Linked DNA regions of Homo sapiens: all the other regions are linked to region 2. Evidence: fine-mapped expression QTL. A gene starts in region 2. Each other region holds a variant in brackets. All regions are shown on one strand. Distances are from middle to middle.

Region 1 (4,243 bases), 110 kb before region 2:
ACAGTCTGAGAAACACTGATGTCAGTGGAGCACTAGTGTGCAAACTCCAAGTGGCCCCCTTCATCCGTGGTTTAAAGATGCTGCTGTTGCTGGCACAAGTCCCAGGAGATCCAGTGTTTCCTTCTTTACTAACAGGGTCTGTTACTGGCATAATCTGAGGAACATTCAGAAGTCTTTCTCGACTAAGAAGATCTCCAAGGAGCAGCTGCATCTAGAGTTCTAAGGACTTAGCTTCTCCTGTACTCCTTTTAAATCACAGATAGCTACAGAGAACAGCACTTCTGTTGTTCAGTCTTTATTTTTCATAAGGGAAAAAGCCCACTGTGGCATACCTGCAGCAAGTGAAAGTGTAAATACAGCTCCTCTGTCTGCATACTCCACCCTATCAGAGCCCTGGGCTCTCCTCACAGCCCCCACCTTTCTCTGTCCCCAAAGGCTGTACCCAAGATGTACAGACCTAGTAAGAAATGCTTTTAGAGTGTCAAGTGAGTTTTTTCTTCTTTCGGACATCTCTATTAACAAAATCCTAAAGAAAATCAATGGATTCCTATTTCCTCATCCATTCATACCATCAGATCCTTCTCAAATTGACCACAGAATCAGTGGCCGTCACAATGAAATTGACTGCATATGAAATGAATCTGAAAATTCCATTTATTAAAACACATACATTGTCCATGTGGGATGAAAATGTGCACATCACATTCAGGTTTTCCTGCTTTAACATTTCTGTAGTTCTCTCTTTGAAACACACACTCCACAGATCTTATATAGGAAAAATGTGAACAACTTTTGGGCTGCAAAACATTAATGCATACATAACAATTCATCATTGCCAAGAGCAGCTAGAAGCAAATATTAAGGAAGAAAGACAAAGAAGTATAAAAATTCCTAAAGACAGCATGCTTTATTTTCTCAAAATTCCATATGTGACTATGAGCGTATGGAGAAATCGTTTGATTTTTAAATTTATTGTTTTGTCCTTGGTAGGCAATCTCCTTCAAATATTATTAGCAAAATCAAACATAGATCAAAGTATGTATTTGCATCTTCTGATTGAAATTAAACAGTACTTGGTTTCAAATGTTTTAAAAATAACACTTTTTAAACTGGAGTTGATATTGAGGATCATGTAAAATTATTCTTTATAGACTTTGCATTCTAAATATGAAGTTTATTGTTACTACTTATTAGTTAATTCCACGGCAGATTTTCATTTCTATCGAATATATTATATGTAGAAACTAGGGCCTTAAATAATTAAGCTGACTTTTCCTATTAGTTATTCCTTAAGATAAAATTATGCTGGTGAAAATGACTGTTGAATTTCTCAAGAAATTAAGCTCTATAGAGGCATAAGTAATCGAAAGACTTTTTCCCCTGAATAAGTACAAATACCAAGAAGCCAAAACTCATATAAAGATTTTCGTATTATAATTCCATACTGTAAGACATAAAATTATGAAAAAGCCAAAACATTTTCCTTAAAATGCTCCCTAGAAATTGTAATTCCATCTTAATTGCTCCAAAGATCTAGATTTACATGGAAATATAAAGAGTCCTTCTGAGAAAAGGAAATGCTGTGAATAGTGGAAATCGTCTGGGCCTTCTAATGATGCCTCAGTCACCACCAAAGAGTGTTTTATTCATTCATCCGTGTTTTCATGTGACCACATACTCAATTCATGTTTTGGCCCATGTAAAAACTGTGATATGTTTTAGCTTATTCCATAGTGTTACTAAGCTAATTGTACAATGCTGTAGTTTAATAAATACTCTGCTGTTTTTTTCACCCCTAAATCTTCATGGGCGTCCTAACTGTAACAAAAACCCCACAATTTGAACAGAAGAACAGAAGTATCTGGTTACAGAAGTGCATTCATACATTTCACAAATGTTTCAGTATCCTCTTCTCCCCGACCCCAGCATGAGCTTTAATTGGATGTATTTATTCTTTCACCAGCATGCCCATGAAGGAGCTAAGGAAAACATTTACCAAGTCTGTTTCAAAATCTGTCCTTGGCATATCAAACTTTTTCTCTTCCTTTTTCATGCTTTTTTTTTAAAAAAAAAACAGGAGAAAGCGAATAGAGAGGAAAGAGA[C/G]AATAAAATTAATTGGGAGATGGAGATGATATTTGGGGATTTGAAAGCAAACAAGATGTAAGAGAGGCCCTCTTTGACTGAAAATGACACAGAAAAAGGTGATCAAGTCTTCCAGGGCCTGCTGTTACTGATGGAGACTACAGCTACAATGAAAAATTACTCTCACTACCATATCTTGGGGAAGGAGCGCTCTAGTTGCAAGGAATTTGTAAATAAAGGCCGAGAGACTCTAACAAACAAGATGGAGAACAAAAACAAAGATTCCATTAAAAAATTTGTTAAGTGAAAAACCAAGACCATCTCAGTGGACAAAAGAGCCAGAACTCTTCCTCGTAGAGCCGGCCGTGGGGACCGCACCTGCCGCCCAAAGAGTGGCGATTTGAGGTCCTTCTCCCTGGAGAGTGAATAGCTGGAGTTCTGAGAATGGTCACCTTCTCTGGAGCTGTGGGTTTATTTCTTCTGATACTTGAACAAAGGAGGGCCATGGTTTTCTTGTTAAGAGCACAAAAAAATGTTCTTTTAATCTAGAATGTCCATGATTCAGGGAAAGAGGGAATTTGCTCATACTCATGGCAAAAGCATTTCCCAGCTCATGGTGAATCCTTAACTCTCCTGCTTGGTGACAGCTGTGCTGCCCTGGGTCCTGGATAAACCAAAATGCTTTGGATTCTGGAAAACGTATTGAAGAGGCATTTATACCACTATTAACTAGGAGGTATTTTAGGTGTGGCTAAGGCTCTGAAGTAATCTCAATTTTCAAAATACTGAGATTTTCTTCCCTCTCCGGGGTCTTTTCCCTCTCATTTCCTTTCCCAGCTTTAGAGTAAAACAACAAAACTTCTGAATGGATGTAACATAGGGACATTTTCATGCAATATTACTCAAAAATTGTCACAAATATATGAAAGCACCAGTCACAACACAGGATTTACTTTTACTTGCAGAATCAAAGCTATCATGTACACATGTTAGGAATAGTGAAAAGAGAACACAGACAACCGGCATTTTTTGTCGTTGTTACCATGAGGATACACCACGGGGAACATCTCCCTAAACATTTTGTGTGATCATTCTTGGAGTTCAATCTGATAGACCAGTCCAGCCTTATCTCCACACTACTCTAATGGGGAGGGGTGGAAGGAGGGGTAGAGGAGAAGGAAGAAAGAAAAAGAAAGGCACAGTGACTATACATCAATGCCATTAAACCGAATTGCATCTACACGGGACAGCTCAGCTTATCAAAGGGTATTCTAAAGACAATATTCATTCCAAGAAGGTCACACATATCTTACCTCAGTACAGCTGTCTGTTTTAATTGTTATTTTTCAAAATATGAAGCAGAAACATGAGGATTTTGGGGGGGGGGCTGGGGGATAGCAGAAAAGAAGTGACACCAATTTTATTTTTATATATTCCCCTCCTCCAGGCAGTTCGTCAGAATCAGATCTCTTAAGTCAGGATGTGGATCGGCTTGCATTCTCATAAAGGGGACCAGATCTTTAAACATGCATAGCCTAGAGTTTCCAGAATGGTTCTCCTCGCTCTCTTCAAATGCCGTGGACTAGAAAGGTGCCCACTTCACTAAAAACTCTACATCAATGTCCCAGGAGCCCGGAGGCTCTTCAGGCCCCTCTCAAAGACTTAAAGGATGGCACAGAAAAACTTCTTCTCCCTAAACGGGTTTTCTGAAGCCGGAACAGGGGTCAGGAGGGGGTCTTCCTTGGCATGTGCTTCACAGTAGGCCATCAAATCTGCAGCTGCCTTGGACACCTGGAAAGGGAGACAAAAACAACCAACACTGGAGTCTGGTACAGTCAGTCAAGGCCCAAGGCTTTAGAGCCCAATGTCCTGGCATCAAATCCTTGCTCCATGAAGCAAGATACTCAGCCTCTAAAAGCTTCTGCTTCCTCATCTGCAAAGAAGAAAGTTGACGACACTGACCTTACAGGATTGTTGCCAGCAAGTCTGGGACTAGGTTAAGGTGAGTGAGGCACTTAGGGTGCAGAACCGAAGGAGGCACTCGCTGGCAGGGGCATGCAGGTGTCAACCCTGCACTTCCATAGCCCCGCAGGTGGCTGTCTCCTTCATTTGTTTTTTTTTTTTTTTTTTTTTTTTTTTTGAGATGCAGTCTCGCTCTGTT
Region 2 (4,243 bases):
CAATTAAAATTTCTGTGTTGGTCTACTCCTCAAAAGCCAGTGAATACCCCAGGAAAAATCATTAAGTCTTTCAATATTCCATATGGCCAGAATAAGTGGAAATAGTTTCATTTTACAATGTAGAAGCATATTCATCTTTTTCCTAAACATTCTACCATCATAGTTACTGATCTGCTGTTACTCACTAATGTTCTGCTTCAAGCTGGAATTTAACGATTAAGAAATGTTTTGTGCTGTGCAGAAAATAGGCACCTCTTAGTTGTTTTCAGAAAGATAGCAAGGCCCTCTTGACTCTACTATGCCCGTCGGGCAAGGTTTCATTTTCTTACTCATGTGTGAAACACACACAGAAGACTAATGCAGATTGTCTGTGCCTCCCCAAACAAAGTAGGGTGTTGGCATTATCTAGTGAATACAGCCTGCAGAGGAGTAAGTACCAAAGGGTAAGCCTGTCCTTATCCATGCAGCTCAGGTTGCCAACTTTTTACTTCATTTCATGATGCACAGCTTGATTCTAGAACTCCACTGGGTCATTCTGGATCGAAGATCTATCCTAGGTCTCTTCTCTAAGAAGATGATCTTTACATACTTCCCTTTAAGATGCAAATAGGAAGTGGAACTGCAAAATCCATGTCACGACTTGTTTTGCCCACAAGTTTGATTAAATTCAGTGAATCCTTCAAGGAGTTCCATGGTTTCAATACTAGCAGTACTTTGTCTCTTAGGCATGGTGCAGGTTTACTTTAATGAGCAAAAAACCTCTGAGAAATAGACTTTTTTTTTCTTTAGTAGCTATAAAAGCTTCCCATCTCTCAAAATGTGCTGCTACTCCACAGATTTTGAGAAGCCATATCGATTTCATAAAGATAGCATTAAAAATAGCCCTATAGCTCTTAACAAGTGAGAACGATGATAAAGGAGGAGGCATATACATACATACACTCTCAACTAGCATATTTGGTATCTAAGAACCTATGTTTCAAGAATCTGTGAGTGTCAAAATATTGACTTTTTTTAAATTTTTACTCCACTATAAGCAGTTTTTTCTCTTTCTTTTGAAAAATTATCTCCTTTCATTATAGAAACTCTAGAAGAAAAACCCTTTTATCAATGACTACTTACTGCTTAACTGTACTTTCTGTTGAAGATTAAAAAAGCTTAATTCTTTAAATCGTGCTGCATGAGGGTATTAAACTCCCTAATATATCCTGTCAGAGGAATCTCACAATCTCAGTTCTCATCTGCTAGACCTATTTAGTGTACTTTTACATATCATTCATAAATATGAACAAGTCATAGACCCAGGCTCTCATTAAGAACATCCTTTGCTCAAGAAAATCAAAGAATAAAAATCATGTTCTGGTTTTACTACTTCAGTCTATCTACCAGATATTCGCGTAAGGAAACAACCCAGCTGCACTTTTTTATTTTGTCCCTCACCGAGGCTAACATGCACCTTGACCTAGAGGTGAATAAAATGCATATAAACATAAAATCCATGCATATGCTAGTATCTGATTCTGGACAAGTTACTGGCCTTAAACCCGCCACGCTCCTTTGAACAAGGATGCAACTTTAGGATAAGACCTACTGGCAAATGATAGCTGTGTCTGAGGTTATCCTGAAAGCAGCTGCACAAGCTGAGGGAGGAAGACACTGTTTTTTAATGGTAAATACTGCCCCTCACATACGCAATTCAAGCCTTTGTTGGCAAAATCTAAGTACAAAAGAATTTAACTCCCCCAAAAGCCAAATCACAGCCATTATTTTTGCAAAACAGAAGATATCCCAGTGCAATGTGTAAGAAAGAGAATGCAATTAATATTTTACACCACTCACTCCCCTAAAACAAGGGGACTGCCGGGCTCCGATGACCAGACCACAGCTTCACAGCCCCAGATGGATTTCGACTCAGCCCTGGTTTTCCTCCGAGAGAACTATACAAACAGCTTCTTGTATTTAGCATGTTGGCCTGTTTAGTCATCAAATCTAAGCACTGATGATGAGGTTTTTTTAAATCAAATGTGTCATAAATGTGGTTATTCTCAAAGACCCTTCCAAAAGAATCTAATCATTTCCCCTAGTCCTGAAGCGATGTCTCTATCATCCCTTAGAAATCGGACCTTAAAACCACAAGCGACGGTCGTTTTTCTCAATTAAAAACGAGCAACATGGAAAACGTTTCATTTACCTTAGCTCCCGAGGCTTGGTCCGAGGAGCGTGGTTTTCCCCTCTCCGGAGCTGATCTGTGCAGGCGAGCTCCGGCGCAGCCCAGCCCAGCCCAGCCCAGCCCAGCAGTAGTAGGAGTTGCCCACGGAGCGCGGCGGCAGCGTTGTGAGTATGTGTAGCAGCGGCTGCAGCCCAGGGACTAGTCCCCACCCAGCTTTGTCTTCAATCAACGTTCTTTCTACAGGAAGCAGCGCATCTCCCACTTCCTCCTCTTCTTGGTAGCTGTTAGCGGCTTGCTTCTTTTCCCTCTCATTTCCATTTCAGGGCTTACTCTGGTGGTTTTGTCTGCTCCTGGGCTGCTGACAGTGATTTGACTTTAATCCCCCTTCTCCCTTTGTTCAAGTCCCTCTGGTGCTGTCTGTTCCTTCCTTCCCCTTTTCTCATCCCCCCACGGTCACCTCCACGACAGCTTCCACACACTGCTCAGTCGGCCCCCTTCCTGGCACACTGCCTGCTTTTTTAGCCTGAACCTGGCTTGTTGCTATTGTTGTTCTTGCTGTTGTTGTTTCTACTGCTGCTGCTGTTTTTTTTTGGGTCAACATCCCCTGGCCAGGTTCTGGCCCCCGAGATCCCACACCAGCCTCCACTGTTCCTCCTGATTTACTGTGGTCCCCATCAAGCCAGCTAGCTGGGAGCTTGCAGCTTGCAGCTTGCAGCTTCTCACTGCAGCATTTTTCTCTGTGGCCAACATTTCAGAGGCTTCATTTCTCCAAGGTCCCACTACCACTGAGATCTTACTTAACCCACATGCTCAGAAAAGAATGGCCCTGATAAGTATTCTTATGGGGCACGGGAACTAAACCAAGTTGGCAATGCTACCTATAGGCCTAATAGTGAGGACTATTCCCAAAAGATTCTCATAGATGGGAAGGAATGAGGTGGTGCTGAATGCTGCACATTCCCAACAGAGAAACTGAATACTCCTCTCCCCATTCCACACACACTAGTAGGGCTGAAGGACCCTCATGATCCTCCAGTCCCTTCCCTTCATCTTAGGAGGTAATATCGTAGAACCCACCAGGGTAGAGCCTGCAAGCTGTCTCTGTCTGCCAGAATTTCAATCCAAATTGCCATTAATGACTGTATGAACTTGGGCAAATTATTTAACATCTATGTGCCTCAGTTTCCTCATCTGCAAAACATAGTTGATGATAGTCATGCTCTACATTGGAAATATGAGGATTAAATGAGATGGTATACAAGGTGCTAATAATAGTTCTGGGGATATAGGACGTATTCGGCACATATTAACTCTTATTATTTTTAGAGGATGTTGGGCCTCACATTCAGCAAGTGATTTCGCCAGTCAGCAGCCGAACCCTCACCAGTACTTGGTTTTCCAATTCCTCACTATTAGTATGTTCACAATTGAGCCCAGATGCTTTAATAACAATTTATTCAACGTGTGAGTCATTCTCCCCCTAGTACTAACACAAGGTACTTTGGGGAAGCTACAGATTAAACATGAGATGGGGGAAGGGGAATCCTGTTCTAGTGTCCAGGCAACATTATGGAGTTAAAAACAAAAACAACAACAACAAAAAACACCTCTTCTCAGGAATCAGTGCCTGGAAAGCTAATCTTGCCAGGAAACAGTTAATTCCCCAACTCCTCCTTTTTAATCCAGTTTTGCCTTAATCCTCCAGCAAGTAAACTAACAGGAAATGTTAGAAATCTAGGACTGATGGAGAATAACTCTCCAGTTGAGCCTTCCAAACACATCGTGAGGACCACAGCACGTTAACCTAGAAGGTACAGAATTTAATTTCTATGAAATGTTCTGAGACAGTCCCAAAACACCCTTTGTTTTGATTTGAACAGTTTGCTTATTTTTTCAAGGAAATCTTTCATCAAAAAGGACCCTGATGTCAACTCACTCACACCTGAAAATTACAAAATGGATTGATTTAAGATTGAAAATGAGCAACTAGCTTTGATCCACCAGCAGATAGAAATGCAGTAGTGAGAGGGATTGGGCATGAATCCACCAACATGTGAGTTATCTCCAAACCAG
Region 3 (4,243 bases), 53 kb before region 2:
CCACAAACCTGGATGTAGCATTCTGCAGTGTGTCTTTGTCTGGGAACAGAGTACAGCAGCTGTTTCCTAAGTTCTAAACACAGACCCATAATTCACATATGTAGGCAAAAGTGATTCAGGCTAAGTATGTGTTCCTTTCAAAGCACTAATTTAAAGAAATACCACTTTTTTTTCCAAATAGCATTTAGTCACAAAATATTTTAGAAAAATACCAATTTTCTGTTGTGGGGAAATCGTTTAAGGGCTGGGCTGAAATTCAGAGGAAGACTTTTGTTTCTTCTTTTAAATAAAAAGTCACTTTATAAAAGAGAACGGATGGCTTCTAACGTATCATATTTACCCATTTCCCCTCCCTAATTTTCCATTTACCCCAAATTCGATTTGTTTCCTTGCTGCCTCTTTAAGTCCCTCCCATATCCTCAGAGCAGCTTAGGTGTCTTTTGTGAATTCATTTATGCTCTTTGTTCCATTCATCCTATTTAGGGCAGTAACAGTTTACAAGAAGCAAAACACATTATAAGTTAGTCATAATTATTACACTGAAATGCATCCTCTCCCTCATAATGTAGCAGAGGTGTAATATGACAAAATAGAAGTTTCTCAATCCAAAGCTGCCATCCTTATCTATGAACCAGTAAACTGCCCTTCACAGAAGGCCTTGGCTTTTTACCTTTAAGGATGATGCCCTTATTCTAAGAAAAGAACAAAGAAGGTTAGTGGGAGTACAGGGAAGAGACAACTGAATTGATTCATACACTTAAGCTCTAAACGTGGCCAACATCTCTTAGTAGCTGAAGTGAAATGGTAAATACTTTGGGTTACATAGTTTTCTGATAAAGTAAAGGCAAAGCAAATGCCTAAGTAGAAAGAAATGACCCTGAACTTTTAAACTCAAGCAAGCAGTCATGGAGTGACAGGCTTTTTGGCCTTGCCTGATGACAGTGTACATGACAGAAAGGCATGATGGCAGGGCATGTATCATCTTTGTCCATTTCCCCCCAATTGAGACCCCAATCGTACCATCTTCAGGTTTCTTCCAAAGTTATGCGTAAGTGAGTGACTCTCGTCAGCATCAAAGACCAGTATTTGGTCTGTATTACATTTGAAAACACAAAAAAACATAAAGAACTCTTCAAATGAAATCTGATGAAGCTAATAGCCCATGAGGATCAGTTCAACAAGTTGCATCAGCAAAGACCTCTCTTTGTTACCGGATCTACCAGATCCAGGCCGCAAAGGAGCTCCCTTAGACTGCTTTAATTAGGTATTTCACTTACAAATGAATTAATTAATTAGAGATAAGCACCTGAAAGCACATTACTCATGTGGTCTAGTTAAAGCTTTAAATAGATACAAAACTGCCGACACCTCATTACTATTAGGTAATTCTACACGGGACTTAACACCCAAGATGATTTACCAAACCTCGTGCCAAAACAGCATTCATTCTAATCCCTCCCGCACCTTGGGAACCTTAGCACAAGGATCCTTCAAGAAGATTCAGGGAGAAAGGATTAGAGCAGGAGCTATGGTTACTGTGGCCTGTGTTTCTTCATCAGTTTTTCTTTCAGACATAATGAAATGGCCTGAGACGGCAGTCCTTTTCCATTCTACCTTGGTCTGGCTTGTCCGTTTTATGTTGCCTAATAACTCCATTCAATGGCACAGTCATTTCTGGCAGCCTCCAGCTAGAATCAGAGTGGTGGCAGACATACTCAAGAGCCAATATGGAATGACTCCATTCCCCCAAAAACAAGATGATTGCAATTTCAATATCTTCTGCAAAAGTAGATAAAAAGGCAAGCAAGCAAACAAAACACCTTGAACTTTATATTGGATACAGTGACTCCCAGTTTTAAGCACACATGGAAATTCTTACCTACAGATAAAATTTTAGTGATATTCTTCCCATTGTTTTTCATATATATGAAATGAAACATATGTATGAAAAAGGTATTTGGATATATGTAACTTTTATGCATACATTATATATGCAACATATGCATAAATTATATACATGCAACATTTTCATTGTTGGTGGTCAGTTTTAAGGGAGAATATAGAGTACTTT[A/C]ATCCTAATAATAGAACTTGTAAATGTAACTTAAAGGATGTCACCTCCACTCCCACAGTAACTTCTAGTTTTACAGCAGTACTAAGAGCTCTGTGCTTATTCCTTTATCTAGAGCACAGCTTTTTGATCAGTTGCTCCTCCATACAACCTCTAGACCTCCTCTCTACATCTCTGCTTCTTCCCTGATCTCAAAGGTGATGACAATGGGGGAAAGGACCATTCATCCTGTACTGCCCTCTCATCCTATGATCCCATGGCACCTGTTCTTTCCGCTCTCCCCCATAAACTTATTTGTTTATTTTTAGAGACAGGGTCTCACTCTGTCACCCAGACTGGAGTGCAGTGATACGACCTTAACTCACTGTAACCTCTAACTCCCGGGCTCAAGCAAGCTTTCTGCCTCATCCTCCCAAGTAGTTGGGACTACAGGCACAAGCCACCACACTGGCTAATTTTCTTTTTTAAAAATTTTTGAGAAAGGAGGTCTTGCCATGTTTCCTGTGCTGGTCTCAAACTCCTGGCCCCAAGGGAGCTTACTGCCTCAGTTTCCCAAAGTGTTGGTATTACAGGCATGAGCCACCATACCCGGCCTACTTTTTAATGCTTCTATCATCCTCCAACTTATTAACTTTTAAAAAACATAAACATACATTACAGGTGAAAGAATAAAACAAGGAACACCCACTTACCAACCACCTAGAGTTAACAATGGTCACTTTTGCTTCCCCATCCCTCTGTCTCTCCTGCCATTTGAAACTAGGTAGCAGACATCACGAGACTTCATTCCTGAACACTTCACAGTATCATCCCTTTGAAAGCAGAAACATAAGCTTACAGGTTCAATTAATTAATTTCTAGCCGATTTAGTGAGCTTCAGCAGTTTTACTTAAACATTTGTTTTCATTTTTCTTGGGCTATCTTCCACCTCAAAGAAACAAAACACACACATACACACACACACCCCCACCCCCACCCCCAAAACCAAGCCAGTAGCTGAAATACACGTTGCAGCATAATATCTGATGTAAGGTTTTTATAAGGACTGCCCACACAATGTTGTTCACCTGTGTGGGGCCTTTGGCCTCATATTAGAATCACTGACATCTTAGAAGAAAGCATCCAGGCTGGTAACCTTGTAGGGAATAGCTCTCTCGAGAATGTCAGACTTGGTCAATTATGCAATTGTTTTGGGAATTTTACCCCTGGGCACTTCTGGTTTGTCTGAAGAAGCCCAGCAGTAATGAAAGTGGACAGGACTCCACCCACAGAGGAGTTTTGTCCTGGAGATGGTGTTAGGCATCTCTGGAAAGACCTCTGCTCAACCTTCACCAACCAGGGCAGCCGTAGCAACAGCAGGAAGTGACAGTCTCTTCCTCACCTAACTGGAATCAGTGAGGGTGTAACATTATCAGGACACATTCAGTATTTAGGCTGAGCCACTGGAATTAAGGGATTTTGGGGGTTGGGGTGTGGGGATAGAAGATGGGAGCAGCTCACAGTCCTGCCTAAGGTACAAGGGAATCTTAGTGCTCTCTTCCTTTTCTGGCCATTCTTACTATATCTCCCCCATTCTTTCTTCCCCATCTCCCAAGAATAATGAAAGCTAACATTTATATATGGCTGAGAGGCAGTGCAGCAAAGTGGTCAAGAGCTTGGGCTCTGGGCCACACTGCCCAAGTTTGAGTCTCAGTTCTGCCATTTACTCAATAGGTGATGCTGGGCAAGTTACTTAACCTGTGTGCCTCCATTTCCTCATCTTGAAAGTGGGGATGATAACACCACCACATATTTCCTGGGAGCTTGTGAAGAGTAAATAATATATGTAAAGTACCTAGAACAGTGCCTGACACTATTAGCTATACTTTTTTTCATTTACTAAGCAATTACTTTATATAAAGCCCTTTTCATGATTCAACTCCTTTAATCTAACAATAACAACAAAAAAAAAAAACATAAGAAAAGGCTATCAGGATGGGCATGGTGGCTCACGCCTGTAATCCCAGTGCTTTGGGAGGCCAAAGTAGGCAGATCACTGGAGGCTAGGAGTTTGGAGACCGGTCTGGGAAATATAGTGAGACCCTGTCTCTATAAATGTTTTTTTAAAAAATTAGCCAGGCTTGGTGGCATACACCTGTAGTCTTAGCTACCCAGGAGGCTGAGGTGGGAGGATTA

The links. PIP is the estimated chance that this variant, and not a neighbour inherited with it, causes the effect. A credible set is the group of variants that fine-mapping cannot tell apart.
Region 1: its variant is the best candidate, but not a certain one, in a credible set for the expression of GNG2 in whole blood (TOPMed, PIP 0.74).
Region 3: its variant is the best candidate, but not a certain one, in a credible set for the expression of GNG2 in monocytes after LPS (Quach 2016, PIP 0.55).

What each region holds. Positions count from the first base shown.
Region 1 is chr14:51,966,189-51,970,431 of GRCh38, reverse strand. GNG2 (G protein subunit gamma 2) reads right to left here. Exons shown (of 4, transcript NM_053064.5): 4 at 637-3,873. The coding sequence ends at 3,745. Among named protein-coding and RNA genes, the nearest start is that of RTRAF, 21 kb to the left of the region's middle. The variant C/G (reference allele first, on the strand shown) is at 2,104.
Region 2 is chr14:51,858,739-51,862,981 of GRCh38, reverse strand. It overlaps GNG2 (G protein subunit gamma 2), which reads right to left and starts at 2,370. Exons shown (of 4, transcript NM_053064.5): 1 at 2,192-2,370. RefSeq lists enhancers at 2,254-2,463, 2,250-2,751 and a silencer at 2,804-2,883.
Region 3 is chr14:51,911,646-51,915,888 of GRCh38, reverse strand. All of the region lies in intron 2 of GNG2 (G protein subunit gamma 2), which reads right to left. Among named protein-coding and RNA genes, the nearest start is that of GNG2, 53 kb to the right of the region's middle. The variant A/C (reference allele first, on the strand shown) is at 2,072.